Linked DNA regions of Homo sapiens: region 1 is linked to region 2. A link means that fine-mapping ties the variant in region 2 to the expression of a gene that starts in the linked region. Tissue or cell type: B cells. Region 2 holds a variant in brackets; the other region holds the start of a gene. All regions are shown on one strand. Distances are between the middles of the regions.

Region 1 (2,684 bases), 380 kb after region 2:
TTTAAATTGACTCTGCAGAATACCATTCCAGAACTTGCCATCATGTCTAATGAATATAAATTTCTGTAACAATTTTCAAAATTGGCCACCAGCATCATGGGTTCTCAGCATCCACATTATAAATTTCAGAGGCTTCCAGACCTGCATATCTCGTCACTGAATAGATCCGAGCTTAAAATCAGAAGAACTGAATCATCATGCACTCTGAGGCTTCAAGAAACATTTAATCCGGGTAACCAACACACAGTAATAAAAACACTTTTATCATCACTTTATGATATTAACTTGTAAGGATGCTCAATTAAAAACCTATTGATTGATCAAACATTTAGCCCTTTGAAAAGTATTTTTTAACAATTGCTTTGTGCAAAACACTGTTAGGTGTGATGAAGTGTCCACAGAACCATAATACAATTCAATTAAATGAGGCAAATAATGATGAGTTCCTGCCATGCATGAAGAATTCTGCTAGATTGCGTGATCCAGAAGTGAGCAAAATGCAGATCTTATCGCTGTCAAGATGACAGAGTAAAGTGATGTATCCACTAAATCAGTAACTCTAATGTAATAACTTTGTGCTAAATAGGAGATGAGTTCACACTGGACACAGGCAAAGGCTGGCAAACGCCTTCATTTCCTACAAGTTACATGCTGCATGGGGCACATGGGTGCTCAAGGAGACAGTGGGCCTGGGTAGCCTACGAGAATCGTGGCTATGAGCACTGACCCTAGACTCAGACCCTGCAGGTGGAAGCCAGCTCTGCTCCTACTCACCATGAATGTGCTTAGGACATTAGAATGCTCTGGCCTCAGTTTCCGAATCTCTAAAAACCAGACACTGATACCTAATTCATTATGGATGAGACAGTGCCCGTAGAGAGCTCCTGTGAGGCGTGCCTGGGCCCAGAGGTTGAGCGGATGGCTGTTACTATTGGAGGGTTACAGCAGGCTTTGGTTCCCACTGGATCCACCGAGAGCTCTGTCCTTCACCGCAGCCAGCAAGACTGTCTTCGGTACACAAGCACCATCCTGCCTCAGGAACATGACGTTGCATCCAGACATGGTACCAAACTGTGTGCCTCCCAGTCTAGCAGAGGCTTCAAAGCCATCAAGCCCAAACCCCACCATGCTCCCTGTGCACTGAGCCATCCCTACACGGTGTGGGAGACAACTTAGTGTGGGGCCACCGTATGGGTTAACCTGGCTGTTCTCTGGCTGGCTGCAGTCTGCCAAAGTAATAAGCAGCAGTGAGAAGTTAAGTAAACATCACAATGTAATTAAGTTGCTATGGCAGTAAATCTTAGTGACTCAGGTTCAGAAAAGGAGTGGCTCTCAACCAGGGGCAGTTGTCCCCTCCGGGGAACACTTGCTAATGTCTGGACACAGTTTTGGTTGTCACGACTAGGTAAAGGTGTAACTGGCATTTACTGGGTAGAGGCCAGAGATGCTGTAAGCATCCTGTACAATGTGCAGGACAGTCCCACAACAGAGACTGCCCAGCCCAAAATGTCAATAATGCTGAGGTTCAGAAACCTCGACACAGCAGCAGCAATGGCTGGTGCTTGTTGGAGGAGGAGGGTGGCTTAACTAGAGTCTTGAAGGATCATGAAAGTTAGAAGAGCAGGCAGGAGAGGGGAGCCTTCCAGGAGGGGTCCCAGCACAAGCAAGGATGGGAGGGAAGACTGTCTGAGGGGTAGTGAGCAGGCTGGCTCAGCTGGAGGGGCGTCTGTGCAGGTGATGTGTGGAGGGCGTGTGGGGTTTGCTCTCCAGGCCTAAGCAAATCCTTGGGCTTCCGCTGAGAAACTCCCCATCCCTGTCCTTGTGGTGAGGAGGGACTTTCAGTCAAATGACAACACTGTCCCTGAGTCCAGGGGGTAACATGTGGCCAAGACAGGACCATCCTGTCCTCCTGTGGGGACCTGAATGGTGAACAGTGACACATGAGTGGATTCACCATGATGGCCACACAGAGGACCCAGGAGCTGCCCTGATGTCCCCAAGCCCCGTGAATCTGGCTCTTCATATTTAATTTTCCTACAGACTTAACCCATTTCTTCCTATAAATGTCTTCAAAAAATTAAATCAAGGAATCCAGAGTCGGTTTCCATTGCTTGCACTCGAAGTTGGATGGGGGTCTGTGGCTTGGGTCTTCCTCTACCTTCCTGCCACATACCTTCTAGTGCCTGGACCCTGACTGTGGGGACAGTGGAGTCTGCCGAGCAGATACACACTCCACTGAATTATGGGACTGTGGTGTGTTGTGCACTGATGTTTGCAAGACACACACACACACACACACACACACACATACACAGAGGAGAGAGGACACATAGGGACAGCCAGGTTCACAGCAGACACTGAGCAACCACTTTCCTTTCTTCCTTGGTAACAGAGCCACACTTTTGTTCACCCCTCCAGTAGAAAACAATGTGCTGAAGGAAGGTGGCCCTGCCTCAGCCCTAAGCAGAGCAAAGTGATTGGTCAGTGGTTCAAAGCCAATCACAGTAATCCTCTCCCCTTTGCTTGTGATTGGTTTGCGAGTAGGCCTGTCATCCAGTTCTATTAATAGCTAATGGGACCTAAGAGACATCTACTAGAGGCTTCCGGGAAAGCCTTCCCAAGCCACACAGGAGAAAAATCTCCCAGCTCTCCTTCCCTTCCTCTGTTCTGGACACAGGCTGGTG
Region 2 (2,684 bases):
TTCTAATACACATTAAAGTGAATAACTATTGAAATAAAAAATGTACTCCCCCTACTTATTGATATACAAGTTCACTAGCTTGTGCAGAGGCTCCAAATACCTGCAATTTCATGAACCAGAGGTTTGCTTTTCTCCCACATGACAGCCTCGCCATCGGGGGATTGTGGGGGCTGGGGGGCGGGGGCGAGGGGCGAGCTAGTTGGGCGGCTCCCGGGGCTGATCCTCGACCTGCCCATCTTGGGCTCTGTCATTGACGGAGGCTTTTCTTGTCCACCTGGTCCAAGGAGGTGCAAGTCACATCAGGCAGGAGGGAAGAGGAAAAGGGTAAGTGGGGCGTACTCATGCATTTAAGGGTACACTGGGAAGGTACACACCAGCTGCAAGGCAGGATGGGAAATTCAGTTCCGGTCCAGGCAACTAAACTTTGGGATTTCTAATGTTAAATGAAGGGGATGAGGGGTATCAAGGGTCAGCCCGCAGCCTCTGCCCCCTCTATGTGCTCCTGGAAGTCATCTACTCTCCTACCACGGGATCCCACCAGGGCATCCCACATTTTGTGAAAATTAGCTGATTAGGAAAGCATCCTTTCTGCACTACTGTCCGGGGTGGGTGGGGGGGTTGGTTAGGAACCAGCAGTTCCCTAAGTCATGGTACCGGACCTCCCCCATCTTGGGAGAGCAAAGGCTGTCTACTGTGTCCACCAACCCTGATGCACACCCACACAGCTTTCCTGCTGCCTGTGCTGAGCCAGGCACTGTGCTTGAGATGTGCACGGTATTTGACATGGAGTCAGGGTGGGTGGTACCCAGACTCCCAAGTCACTCCGTGGTGAGACAGACTCACAGGGCTCCAAGGACAAGTCAAAATAATTTGGCCTGGCCTCTTTGTTTTAGAGGTTGGCCAACTGGTGTCAAAAGCTGGAGAGGGACTCGTTCAAGGGCATGGGGTTCTAGGTGATGGAGCCAAGAGCCACCTGGGTCCCTGGGCTCTTTCCAATGAACACCACCATGGCCTCACTGGTCCTGAATGATCCCTTTTTAAATTAAAGAGATATATGGTCACCAAATCAAACACCGTTGAATCTTTCTGTTCCCTGCCCATCTTTTCCCAGAGACATCCACAAGTAAAGACACTTTACTGTTTGTGCAAGTTTCTTCCAAATCTTGTAAGAGCAAGTGCTTCACGGGGATTCAAGTTGCTCTGTGATCTCTCAATGCCGGCCCCCAGAGGAGGGATTAGCTCTCTTCCTCCACTTGCCACCATAACTCACAGCCTCCTGCATGGCTAAATTACCGTTTTCAATGACATCATCATAATCAGCATTTATGTCATGTGGCCAAGTAGATGTTATTTACAGCAGAGCCAAGTATGGCAATATGGTTGCATTTTCTTTCTTATACTACTTTTGATTTCTCTTGAATTAATAATTTCCTTGTTCTTTTCACTGCAAAATTTGCTTACAAATATTTAGTTCTTACCAAATCCTCCATCATTTCATCTGCTCCCATATTTTACAAGCTGTTTTGAACACAACCCATTATAAGAAGTATATTTTACAACAAGGCCTGGCGTGCGCGTGCACACACACACACACACAC[T/ACT]CAATATAAAACTAAAATTTCGCAGAATATTCTTACCTCACTATAAGTAATGCCCTTTGATATTTTCTACTGAGTTCTGTTATTTCACATTTTAAAATGCTGGTCAAGACTCACTGAATGGAATTCAGGCTCCATTATAGAGGCTTAACCTGCAGTTTGAGAATTGAGAAGCTTGGGCTTATCCCCCAAGGCCCAGCTTCTCCTGTAGTCAGTCTCACCCTGGGCTCTATTGACTGCAGCCTCTGTCCATAGTTCAAGTCTGTCATGGGTGGGCTCTCAGGTGATGGATGCAGGGGCAAAGGGAAAGCCTTCTGAAGGCTTCCGTCTTTAACTCTGTGGCTGCTTTAAACTGACAATAAACAGATTACCCGGAGGAAAGGCATACACATGTATTACCATGCACATATGCCTAAGAGCCACACAAAACATGAGACTCATGGAGAAGCCAGATGGTTGAAGTCTTTATAGCTTGTAGGAGTGGAGGCTTGAGGCTTTTGGGGGAGGTGGTGACAAGTTAGAAAGGAAAGGGGAGGAACTGAATGGTAAACAAAAGTTGCCTTGTTATTCAGATAAAGTCTCTAGAAGAATGGACAACAGCCTTTCTGAGTGCAGTGAGGACTTCCAATCTCCTCTCAGGTGACCAGTCTTTCCCGGCTGTTTGAAGAGATTCCTAGGGAGGAGGTCATGCCAGTCACATTTCTTTTGGAAGTACATCCCTCAGGCAGATAAGGGAATCCCAGAGAGATCCCCTGGCCAAAGATCATGCTTTGGAAGTGAAGGAGAGACAGGAGAAGGTCAGAGAGACATGTGAGTTCTGAGGCCCTCTTCTGAGGTCTTTCAATATCCTTTGTTCAAAGCACTCAGGTTTGAACATTATCTTGGGGTATTGTTTTCTGAGTCCTGACACTGAGCAACTCTCATCTGCAGACTTCTCTTTGCTCCTTTCCTGGGATGCTGAACTTTTTCATGAAACCTGTGTTTTCTGTCTTCATTAATTTTCTGCTTTCCCAAACTACTTTTTTTTTTAATTAAAGAAAACATCATTGAGTAACTTCTAAATTACTTCTTTTTAATTGAGGAAAACAA

Direction of the effects. Positions count from the first base shown, and alleles are read on the strand shown. Sizes are in standard deviations (SD) of each study's normalised expression.
In carriers of allele ACT in region 2, the expression in B cells of the gene that starts at base 1,303 in region 1 tends to be higher than with T alone (large effect, 1.1 SD a copy in Schmiedel 2018).

Evidence for each region. PIP is the estimated chance that this variant, and not a neighbour inherited with it, causes the effect.
Region 1: LINC01522 starts here. The variant in region 2 is fine-mapped to the expression of LINC01522 in B cells (Schmiedel 2018, PIP 0.95).

Annotation. Positions count from the first base shown.
Region 1 is chr20:47,988,736-47,991,419 of GRCh38, reverse strand. It overlaps LINC01522 (long intergenic non-protein coding RNA 1522), which reads left to right and starts at 1,303. Exons shown (of 3, transcript NR_110027.1): 1 at 1,303-1,405; 2 at 2,678-2,684. All of the region lies in intron 1 of LOC107985436 (a long non-coding RNA gene), which reads right to left.
Region 2 is chr20:48,369,992-48,372,675 of GRCh38, reverse strand. LINC00494 (long intergenic non-protein coding RNA 494) reads right to left here. Exons shown (of 5, transcript NR_026958.1): 5 at 2,038-2,684. Among named protein-coding and RNA genes, the nearest start is that of LINC00494, 11 kb to the right of the region's middle. The variant T/ACT (reference allele first, on the strand shown) is at 1,599.